Linked DNA regions of Homo sapiens. The protein of the gene in region 3 interacts with the protein of the main gene of each other region in a pairwise test. Each region holds a gene or a part of one and is shown on either strand. Other genes may lie near its edges.

Evidence for each region.
Region 1: the proteins of SLC10A6 (region 3) and CDIPT interact in binary tests that used the Homo sapiens proteins (3 or more experiments, as listed by UniProt).
Region 2: the proteins of SLC10A6 (region 3) and TMEM218 interact in binary tests that used the Homo sapiens proteins (3 or more experiments, as listed by UniProt).

Annotation. Positions count from the first base shown.
Region 1 is NC_000016.10:29,861,325-29,865,072, reverse strand, and holds the start of CDIPT (CDP-diacylglycerol--inositol 3-phosphatidyltransferase), read left to right. Parts: upstream 1-1,846; 5' UTR 1,847-2,215; coding exon 2,216-2,258; intron 2,259-2,352; coding exon 2,353-2,487; intron 2,488-3,748. UniProt on the Homo sapiens protein: Catalyzes the biosynthesis of phosphatidylinositol (PtdIns) as well as PtdIns:inositol exchange reaction. May thus act to reduce an excessive cellular PtdIns content.
Region 2 is NC_000011.10:125,109,458-125,113,205, forward strand, and holds the start of TMEM218 (transmembrane protein 218), read right to left. Parts: upstream 2,170-3,748; 5' UTR 2,082-2,169; intron 1,290-2,081; exon of another isoform or gene 1,187-1,289; intron 1,093-1,186; exon of another isoform or gene 1,034-1,092; intron 1-1,033. UniProt on the Homo sapiens protein: May be involved in ciliary biogenesis or function.
Region 3 is NC_000004.12:86,842,766-86,846,513, reverse strand, and holds part of SLC10A6 (sodium-dependent organic anion transporter), read left to right. Parts: intron 1-3,748. UniProt on the Homo sapiens protein: Transports sulfoconjugated steroid hormones from the extracellular compartment into the cytosol in a sodium-dependent manner without hydrolysis.

The DNA.
Region 1 (3,748 bases), on a different chromosome or scaffold from region 3:
GGCCAGCAGTGAGGAGTGGGTACTGGGTTAGCGGGTGAGAGGGGCATTTCACAGGTCCTAGGGCTGGCTGTGAGATGGATGAGATGGGCACAGACTCCTGGAGAGTTCAGCTAGGGGTGGGAGGGGTCAGGGACTGTAACCAGGCATAGTGGGGGCAGCGGTTCTCTAGACACGGTGGTCCTGAGGCAGGGGGTTACCGCGTTTGGATATCTGAGTCGCTTGGTCTTGTGACTGCTTTTTTTTGATGGGCACAGGGTTCAAGTGGCAGCAAGCAGTGCACAAAGCCTCCTCCATGAGTTCTGCACTGATCTGGGACAGGTATTCCTCAGAACGAGATAACGAAGCCTGGGAAAGGAAAAGCCGGAGGGGTTCAGCCTGGGAGCTCCCACATGGGAGTGCTGGCTGTGGGAGTTCCCAGGCTGGGGCCTGTGGGTCCAAGGAGCTTGCTCCTGAAGGACTGGGCCTTGAGATTTAGCTAGAAAGCTCTGGACCTGGGGGAGGGGGGTTTGGTGGGGGTTTAGAGTCAGGGCCTAGTGCTGAGAGCTATGAGTCGGGGCTTCAGGACTCAGGGTTGAGGCTAGAGTCTCAGGGCCCGTGGCTCAGACCTGGCACGGGGTGCCTCTGCCTGGGAGGCTTTCACTTCATTACATTCCCACCTCTAGGGTTCCCTGCAGTGCTCACCGGACCTCCTCTCAAGGAGGGTGCAGCTTGAGATGGCCAGCTGCTCTTCTTCTCCCCCTCATTCCCCATCGGAGTGGACGCCATCCCCCTGGGAACAGTCGAAGCCTGAGTTGACCTGAGAAACCAGCCCGCTTTCCCCCAGAACCCAGTCCACCACCATTCCCCGGGCCCAGGTTTAAACAAGGCCTTTAGAGGAAACATCCCGCTGCCTCATTCCCTCTCACAAGAAAAAATAATAATAATAATAAAGGTTGCTTTATATCTTCGGGAGTGAGAGGGAACTCCCGCAACCCCCTACCCCTCACCCCTTCGCCTGGTGGGCCTCTCCTTCCTTCTTCCCTCCCAAGCACCTTCCCAAGCCGAGGCAGCCGACTTGACGCCCCAGACCTGGCAGATGGGTGGAAACCTTGGGCTACTCGGCAAAAGGAGAGACGTGGAGGCCTAAGGACCTCTGGTATAGGTCGTGGGGGATGGAGAATGGGAGATGGGGAGGAAGGCTGGAAAAGGGGGAGCCGGCTCCGTGTCGCTACCGGACGCTATAAAACCCTTGGAGTCTGCAGAGGTTCCGCAGCCTCGTTGCTAGGAGATCAGGGGTTCTAGAACTAAAGACAGAGGAATTTCCTAGCGCGCCCCGTTTGCTCCTCCAGCCTCCCCTCCGTACCCCTCCAGGTGCCTCCTTGAGGGCAGTGACCCCAAGCGCCAGACGCTTGAGAAGCTTGGGAGGATGACGTAGGGTGGAGCCTGCGACCTAATCCTCCCATCACAAGGGGCACGCGAAAAGCAACCCATCTGCAGGGCGCTCTGGAGCCTCTCTAGCCGCCTAGAGCCTGCGAGAGCAAAGGCGGCTGGAGACTTAGGGGGCGGGGAGTAAAGTGAGGACTGCACCAAATCTCCTGGCCTCTTGGGGACGCAAAGACTCAGGAGGAGGAATTTTATCGCCTTATCTTTGCCTCCAGGAAGTCATACCCTCCACAAAAGGAAAGCAGAGATTTTTATTCGGTCTTCTCTTTTACCCTTTCCTTTTCCGTTTCTAACTTTGCTTGACGTTAATGGTTCCTTCCTCCCTCTCCTCCTCTGCGCTTTGGTACGAGCCAAGGGAGAGGGGCGGAGGGAGGAAAAGGGAAAGGAAGCCGACAGGCCTTAAAGGGGCCGCAACTATTTTTTTAAGCCACTTTTTCCTCTCTCCAATTTTGCAACGACGGGCGCGGAGGAGGAGGTTCCCGGAAGCCACGCGCAGCTGGAGCAGCGGCGACCGCAGCTGGAGGCCCGGAGCGCCTGCGGGGCTGGCAGAGGCGAGGGAGGTTGCGGGTAGGAAGGGCGGACTGCGCGCGCCCCCTGCGTCCCGCGCACCTCGGGGCCGGTCCATGCTCCCGACGGCTGCGGGCTTCAGCATCTGGGGCCAGGTTGGGGCGGCGGGGTCCAGGGCGCAGGTGGTGCGGCCGATGCGCCGGGCCGGAGGCTGAGGCCGCGCTGCGGGGCTGGGACAGCACTGGCATCTCCAGAGCAGGCCCGGGGCAGCAAGGGAGGCGCCGCGATGCCAGACGAAAATATCTTCCTGTTCGTGCCCAACCTCATCGGTGAGTGCTGCCCACGGCCCCGGGCCGAACGAGAGGGCGAGGGGCCTTGGCGGGCTCCCTGATCCTGCCCTGTCTCCCCGCGTCCCGTTCCAAGGTTATGCCCGGATTGTCTTCGCCATCATTTCTTTCTACTTCATGCCCTGCTGCCCCCTCACGGCCTCCTCCTTCTACCTGCTCAGCGGCCTGCTGGACGCTTTCGATGGACACGCTGCTCGCGCTCTTAATCAAGGTGACAGACACCCCTCTCAGCCAGCCTTGGGGTTCAACAATCCCCTCCTCCCTTCCCCTGCCTCCTCGGGACCTCAGAGTCAGAGGGCTGTCATTCCCATCTCTGGAAAAAGCAGAACAGGATGGCCTGGGGCTTTTTGTTTTGTGTTTTGTTTTTTTGTTTTTGAGACAGGGTCTCGCTCTGTCACTTAGGCTGGAGTGCAGTGGCGCGATCATGGCTCACTGCAGCCCCCATCTTCTGGGCTCAAGTAATCCTCCCACCTCAGCCTCCTGACTAGCTGGGACTACAGGAGCGTGCCACCACACCCGGCTAATTTTTAAATTTTTGTAGAGACTGGGTCTTGCAGTGTCGCCCAGATTGGTCCCCAGCTCCTAGCCTCAAGCGATCCTCCTGCCTTGCTCCCAAAGTGCCGCGCCCAGCAAGAATGGACTGATTTTGTAGCAAAAGGAATTTAAGCTAGCTCTTGAGAACTCACTGCTTGTGAGAGGTGTGGATTAGCAAGACATGACATGGCGGTGGCGCTGCTGGAGGTCTCTCTGAATACAAGTCCATTCAGGCCAGGGGCGGTGGCTCACGCCTGTAATCCCAGCACTTTGGGAGGCCGAGGTGGGTGGATCACGAGTTCAGGAGTTCGAGACCAGCCTGGCCAACATGGTGAAACCCTGTCTCTACTAAAAATACAAAAATTAGCGGGCTTGGTGACGCGTGCCTGTAATCCCAGCTACTCGGGAGGCTAAGGCAGGAGAATTGCTTGAACCCGGGAGGCGGAGGTTGCAGTGAGCCAAGATTGCGCCATTGCACTCCAGCCTGGGCGACAGAGCAAGACTCTGTCTCGGAAAAAAAAAAACAAAAAACAAAAAACAGTGTATTCAACAGGTGTTTACTGGAGGCCTACTGTGTGCCCTGCATAAGCAGTTGGGGTTCCAGAAGGCATGCTTAGAGGGAGGATGGAGAGGGAAGGGTGATGGCTTCTGGAGGGTTGACTAATTTTTTAATCTGTTCTCCAGACCCAACTGTAAGGCTTCCCCTGAGGCATCAAGTCTCTATCTAGCCCTGGAGTCTTGGTTCTGGGGTTGATGAGTTGCAGACATAGCTTTCCTCTCCTCCTACCCTGTTCCCTCCACTCTCATGCCTTTCTCAGTTCATGCCATGGTGACCTTTGCCCACTGACCTCACACACAGCCTGTTTTCTAGCCTGCGTTCCTCCCCAGGCAGGCGGACACTTCCAGTCTTCGTTTACACCCTGCGTCAGAGTGATAAA
Region 2 (3,748 bases), on a different chromosome or scaffold from region 3:
AAAATAAAAAACTTGAGCTGGTGTGCCAAAATGTTAATATTTATTAATCTGATTGGTGGAACATAGATATTATACTACCCAATGTACTATTTTCTGTTTTTAAATTTTTCGTGATAATTTTTAATTTTTAAAAAGGTAATGGGCAGCAGGATGCATATGAATTGGGTGACCAGTTAGGAAACTATTGCAATTCTCCAGATAAGAGATGATGAGGGTCTGACCTCCAGTCTTAGCTGTGTCAAGGGAGAAGGTGTTAGAAATGACACAAGTTTCTAGCTTAGTTGACTGAGCTGATGGTACTGCTCTTAAGAAAACAACTATTTAAATTTAATTTGTGCTATTCTGGATATTACACAAATAACCCAGAAGACTTGGACCAACTCTAACAGTTAGAATAGAGGGCAAATGGTAGTTGAAGCTGGCTGGCGCCATTAGAAATGTTGCCCTTCAATCCCCCTTAGTAGCTTAAGAGTTCGTGAGACATTGGATTTATATATGGTATGGCTTTAAAGTAATAAGATAAATATTCCCAAGCTCTTTTAAGAATGGAGCTCATAATTTTATAAGCAAACTATACATTTTCTTACTAAGCATAGAAAAGAAGGGCTGGGTATAGTATAGAGTGCTGCTATAGAGGAAGAGAGAACATCTAGTCATTTTTATCTTATTTAAATGTGAGAATAATATCTGTGATAATTTCCCATATTAGAATAGCTAAATTATTGTTATTGAGTACAATACAATAAAATATAAAAACGGGTTCATGCCATCATTAAACCTTCTTTGAGAAGTGATGGCTTGGCCAACCCGATTTCAAGGGTAAGTCCATTTACTTAATATCTGTGGCATTTAAAGCAGGTAGACTGGAGTGAAAAAAAATAATTTAAATTTGAACAGTTCAGCAGCTGACAACAAAAGCAACTACAGGGCTAATGTTTTCCTTCTGTGCTCAATGCTGTGAGGTTTTTCTCTGAGAGAGTTTGTTCAAAACCTTTTAGATGTGTGTGTTCATTTAATGGTTGTTTCTACATACCCTTTCATCCAGCTGTCAGAGAAAATAGGAATAAATGGACTGATCCCTGCACAGGTAACCTAATGGATTAAAAATACGGTACTCATCACCAGGTTGATCATCATGAGCGAGAATACTAACTGCCATTATAAGATGACTTATAAGATGACTTACTATCTAAGACAAATGTGGATTCCTCAGAGGGTAATGTGGCCTAAGTGCTGCTGCTGGAGGGAGATATCTCACCCATCCCCCGATTTTCACACTGACTCAAGCCCTTGAAAGCAACAGAAAACAGTGGGTTACAAGGAGTGAAGTGCTCCTCTGGAAGAGTCCTTTTCACTTTGCTTTATAGCTGTTTTCCAAACCTTCAAAAATAACGGGGGGGGGGGGTTACTTTCACACTTTTATGTTTCTACTTTAAACACTTCACTATCTTTTGAATTTTAAAATATTAGAATAACGCCTCTACCTTTGTAATTAGATAAAATGCAAGCCTGGGGAAAAAATCAGTTGCCAAGCTCCCAAAATGCCACCGATGTAGCATCTGCTCTTAACACGTTGATAGAAAAAGGAGGATCAGTAAACCTAGGTCTCTTCCTTGCATCCCTCTCCTGGACGGTGTTGTGGGTTGGAAGCGCTGCAGAGCCTCGGTCTATCCGCTCTCTGGATCTCACAGCACTGCAGCCTGGGAACACCCCACTTGAACTCTAAGCTTCTCCCCAACCCTGTTGCAGATTCAAACTGGCGACAGGAAAACAATGCCCCCCATGTCTCGTCTTCAGAATGTGCACCTGGCCACCTCCCAGGAGCTAGAGAGGGATTAAGGTCTCGGTCATAAGAGATCTGAATCAGGCACTGACACTTCCTTTTCTTAAGAGCATGAAACAAAACAGTCCTTCCTTCTCTGCCTCCAATTAAGTATTTATTAGCCGGGCCTTGGGTCCAGATCAGCGGTAAGGGTGGTCTGCGAGGTCCGTGCACCGCCGTCCGCCCACGCCTTCTTCCAACCACCTCAGCCCGACCCTCCACTTTTCTCCCTTCCCCGCAGCCGCCCCGCTTTCCTCACCTCTGCCCCCTTCACCTGGATCCACTCTCCCCCAGGCTCTACTCACACCTCAGATTCCGGCGCGTTCCAGCCCACGGGGCTCTGGTTTACTTAGGGCGAATCACAAGTGGGCTTTCATTTAGGTGATTTAAGATTCACTAATCAGCGTTGCTCTTTCAACGGCCAACTTCTTCCTCATTAGCTTACGCCTAGCGCGGCTCCCGGCAACGCCGAGCGCGGTGGGTTGGCTCGTCACCCTTCGTTACGCCCTCCGATTGGTCGGTGCCTGTCAGCCTTTGGACCGACCTCAGTTCGGTTGGGTAGCAGCGGTCCGAGCTGCACTCCCCGCCCCCCCGCCACTCCACTGTCAATCACACCATCTCTCCGTAACTCATTGGGCCATTGGTCAGTCTAGCCTGAGGGCGGGTTGTTGGGCGGAAGAGAGAGACTTCTTCCGGCCTCACTCGCTGTCACCATAGAGATTGCCCATCCAGGCAGCGAAGCAGCAGGGCCAGGCAGCTCAGATCTCGAACTCCAGAGAACTGCACAGTCATCTAGACATCAATGCCTTTTCCGGGGCCTGATGAACATCTCAATCCCCAACCCACTAGCTCGAGTGGGGCGCAAGATGTGGTGGACAAGTCAGCTCAGGCCCGGTCATTAAGTGTCCCCAACAACCCTCCTGGAGGGAACTGAGGACGAAGCACCAGTTGTAATAACGGCACGCTTCATTTATCTTTATCTCGACTTGTTTTATTTGGTATTTAATTCTTCCATTAGCCTTGCGAAACAGACAAAGGCAAAGATCATTCTACCCACGGGACAGACTGGGGAAGAGGCCCAGGGTCCATCAAGTAAACCCTCTGCCGCCAGGCTGCTGGAACTGGAGCTGGCCCACGCTATTGGCAGACTGCTGTTACCTAACTGCCAACTAAAGCTTGCCATGACTTTGCTTTGAGGCTATGGCCTGTTAGACCAAAAGATGCATCAATCAGGACAACCAAAGGAAGTAGGACAGAGGCTGCGTGCTCCACCACTGAATCAAGAAGGGGAAACAAACAATAATCAATACCAAATTGGAGAGCTGCACCGTTTGAACCTTTGACCTTAAACAAAATTTTAAGAAATATCATGAAGCAACCTATTCAATCTTAGAGCACTGAATCTCTGATTTAAGGAATTCTCCTGAATCACAGCTTTATGAACCAAAAAGAAGAAGATGCTTGAATTTCATCAACTGCACGTCTCAAATTTATTCAACTTTCGAGGCTTCATTTACAATCACATAAAGTAACCAATGATTTGTTGTGCGTTTAGCAACTTAACATTACTTGGCCCAGTGAGAAGCTCTGTGGCTAAGAAATCCTTTATTTTGATGAATTCATTTCACTGGAACTGAGTGTTGACTGCAGCTATGTTCTGTTAGGAACTGCGAAGATATACAAGAAATGAGATGTGACTCCCATCTTAATAGCCCGTGGTTTTGTAATGTTAGGTCAACAACACATGAAACAAGTAGGAAACACTTTAAAGCAAGATATAACAATGGGCCAACCCTATTGTACAATTAATTTCTCCAAAATATAATAATACTTCATATTTGCAGAACATTTCGTAGTTTCCAGAGCACTTCTTCCCTTGTATTATTTGGGGGATATTTTGTTATGGCTGGAATTAATGTGTGTGTC
Region 3 (3,748 bases):
TCCTGCCGTCAGGTGATCCTCTTGTCTCGGCCTCCCAAAGTGCTGGGATTACAGGCGTGAGCCACGGCGCCTGGCTGACACAAGACTATATTTATGGAGGAAATATATATTTGTGTGTGTGTGTGTATTCAGAGTGCCAGGTACATAGTAGTTGTGCAATAAATATTAGCTACTTTTCCTCTTTTCTTTCTAAATTTTGATTTTGAGTCTTACCAACAAAACTAAAAAAACAAGCAAAAACTAAATATTAGATTTTTAGAAGCTTATAGGTACAAAAGTAATAAAATCAATTTTCAGTAGAAACTCAAATAGGTGAAAATCAAGTACGGTGTGAAACAATATCTAAGTAATTACATTTCTTCATAATTGAATACCAACAAAAAATCAGTTTTAAGCAAAACTCAGTGGATCGTCATTGATAGGAGTTTTATCTGCTGTTAATGCTGGATAAAATCCAAGAGCGGTTAGCACAACATCTTCATTTGACACACGAGGAAGTGGAGATTTAGCTCCCTGCAGATGACCTTGAGCACGTTTCTCATGCCTTCACTCCTGCTTCATGCAGTGCACTTGCAGTTCTCCATGTGTTCACCCCACACAGGCATTTCAGAATCCATTGGTTGGAACCGGTTTGTGCGTTCTGCAAATGAGATGACTGATGACACCCATCCTCTTGCAGTTGCCTGGGCTTGTCATCTTAGCCTTGCCCTGTGACTACCCTCATTCTCGCCATGGCCACTCAATCCACTGCCAAGCCCTGTAGCCCTTCCTCTTGCTGTGTTGCTCACAGTTCTTGCTTCCTGTTGGTCTCCACTAACACTTCCTCAGGTCAGGCCCTCACAATTTCTTTCTTGGCTAATTGTATTTTCACAACAATGAAAGTGCTGTTCTCTGCACCTTTAGTCTCTCCATTACGGCTTTGCAGTAAGTGGATAAGGCAGGCTCTGATACCAGATTGCCTATATTCAAATCCTGACCTTGGGCCTCTTCTCTGTAACTGGAAATCATAACATTACCCGCATGGTACTGTTAGGAGAAAACGAACATGTTATACATACAAAGGCTTCTCAACACCTACTAAATTGGTAGAAACGACTAAGCCAGTCTACTTTACTTCTCCAGGTTCTTTTATTCCACTAGTCCCCTTAAGAACAATGGTTTTTAGTCAAAATGGGCTGCTCATAGTTCTCTGAGCATATCTCACACTCTTCCAGCTTTCTTTTGCCCATGTTGTTCCCACAGTCTGCAGTGCCAACTGACCTTATTTTGTCTCCTCCAGTCATGATGTTGTTCTTCCTTATAACCATCCTAGAAAGCAGTTGGCTGATATGTATGAAGAGCCTTAAAAATTATCCTGCCTCTGGGCCGAGTTTGGCTGATCATGGCTGGGTTCTTTTACATATTTTGGGGTTGGTTAAATGTAGACTGGTCTTGGGTGGTGATATGGTTTGGCTCTGTGTCCCCACCCAATTCTCATCTCGAATTGTAATTCCCGTGTGTCTAGGGAGGGGCCTGGAATCCCCAAGTGTCAAGGGAGGGAAGTGATCAGGTCATGGGGTTGATTTCCCCCATGCTGTTCTAATGATAGTGAGTGATGGTTTTATAAGTGTTTGGAAGTTCCTCCTTTGTTCTTCTTCTCTCTCTTGCTGCCTTGTGAAGAAGGTCCTTGCTTCCCCTTCACCTTCTGCCATGTTTGTAAGTTTCCTGAGACCTCCCCAACCATGTGGAACTGTGAGTCAATCAAATCCCTTTCCTTTATAAATTACGCAGGCTTGGGTATTTCTTTACAGCAGTGTGAAAATGGACTAATGCAGGTGGCTTCAACCTGGACAACTGGGCTCTCTTACTACATGATCTCTCATTTTCTAGTAGACTAGCCTAGACCTGATTACATGGCAGCAGCAGGGTTCTCAGAAAGGCAAAGCAGAAAAGGTCTTTTGAAGTGTTGGCTTTAAACCAGATCCTCTTCCTTCCACCACATTCCATTGGCCAATGCAGACTGCAAGGCCAGTCCAGCTTCATGGATTAGGAAAGTCGATTTTGCCTCTTGATGGGCTGAACTTCCAAGTCACATTACAGCGGACATGGATAAGGGAGGGGTGAAGAATAGGGGGCATTTTTTTCCCCAATATATCCTACTAGAGATGGACAGAATTCCTACCTTTGAGGGTAGAACATGAAAATTAAGATCTGGCAGTACGGTGTAGTAGTTAAGGGCTCTGGAAACAGCAAGCAGACCCATCACTTACTGACTGGATCATCTCGGCAGATTATGCACATTTTCTATGCTTCAGTTTCCTTACTTCTATTTTTTAATTTTTATTTTGATTTTTTTTGAGACGGAGTCTCGCTCTGTCACCCAGGCTGGAGTGCAGTGGCGTGATCTCGGCTCACTGCAAGCTCTGCCTCCCAGGTTCACACCATTCTCCTGCCTCAGCCTCCCGAGTAGCTGGGACTACAGGCGCCTGCCACCACACCTGGCTGATTTTTTGTATTTTTAGTAGAGATGGGGTTTCGCCATGTTAGCCAGGATGGTCTTGATCTCCTGACCTCATGATCCGCCCACCTCAGCCTCCCAAAGTGCTGGGATTACCGGTGTGAGCCACCGAGCCCGGCCAGTTTCCTCACTTCTAAAATGAGAAGCATTCCTACATCGTGAGCTGTTGAGAGGATTGAATGAGTTAATATTTCTAAAGTGCTTAGAATCTCACTTGGCATAAAATGTGATATGAACTATTATTATTATTATATAAGGCAGGCAAAAGAACATCGTGTCCTGGGTCTGTGTTTTAGTCCCTGCTCAAGGAGCTGCATGCCTAACCCTAACCCTGTATATAATGATATATCATAATATATATGTGTCATGTTTTATCTATTCATCCATCAACGGACAATTGAATTATTTCCACTTTTTGGCAATTGTGAATAATACTGTTGAGTCTCAGCTTTCATTTCCCTTGAGTGTATGCTTAGGAGTGGATCTGAGGTTAAATATTAAGTATTTTGTGACTATAGGAAAAGCAAAGCAAAATATGAAGTCCAAATGTCCCCCTTCCTCTACCGTAGTTTCTCCTGAAACTACTGCCCAGAAATGTTTCTCTTGTCTGTCCCCATAATCCGAATTATGTAACTCTTCCTTATCATCTGTTGGAAAGCATTGCAATAGCTGGGCTACTTGTCTGCCTCACCTACTATATCTGTAAGCTCCTGGAAGGCTTGCTCATCTTTGCTTGCACAGTACCAGCCAGGTAGTGGTAGGCACTCGGTAAACATGAGTGAATGAGTGAATGACAGTTTCCGATTGCCTGTGTGTATTACAAAAACAACCCTCAAAAGAGGTCCAGGCCAGGCGTGGTGGCTCACACCTGTAATCCCAGCACTTTGGGAGGCTGAGATGGGCAGATCACTTGAGGTCAGGAGTTCGAGACCAGCCTGGCCAACATGGCAAAACCCCATCTCTACTAAAAATACAAAATTAGCCAGGTGTGGTGATGCATGCCTGTAATGCCAGCTACTCAGGAGACTGAGGCAGGAGAAATGCTTGGACCCAGGAGGCAGAGGTTGCTGTGAGCCGAGATCACACCACTGCACTCCAGCCTGGGCAAGTGACAGAGCGAGACTCCATCTCAAAAAAAAAAAGAAAGAAAGAAAGAAAGAAAGAAAGAAAGAAAGAAAGAAAGAAAGAAAGAAAGAAAGAAAGAAAGAAAGAAAGAAAGAAAGAAAGAAAAGAGGTGTCCATTTATTGATG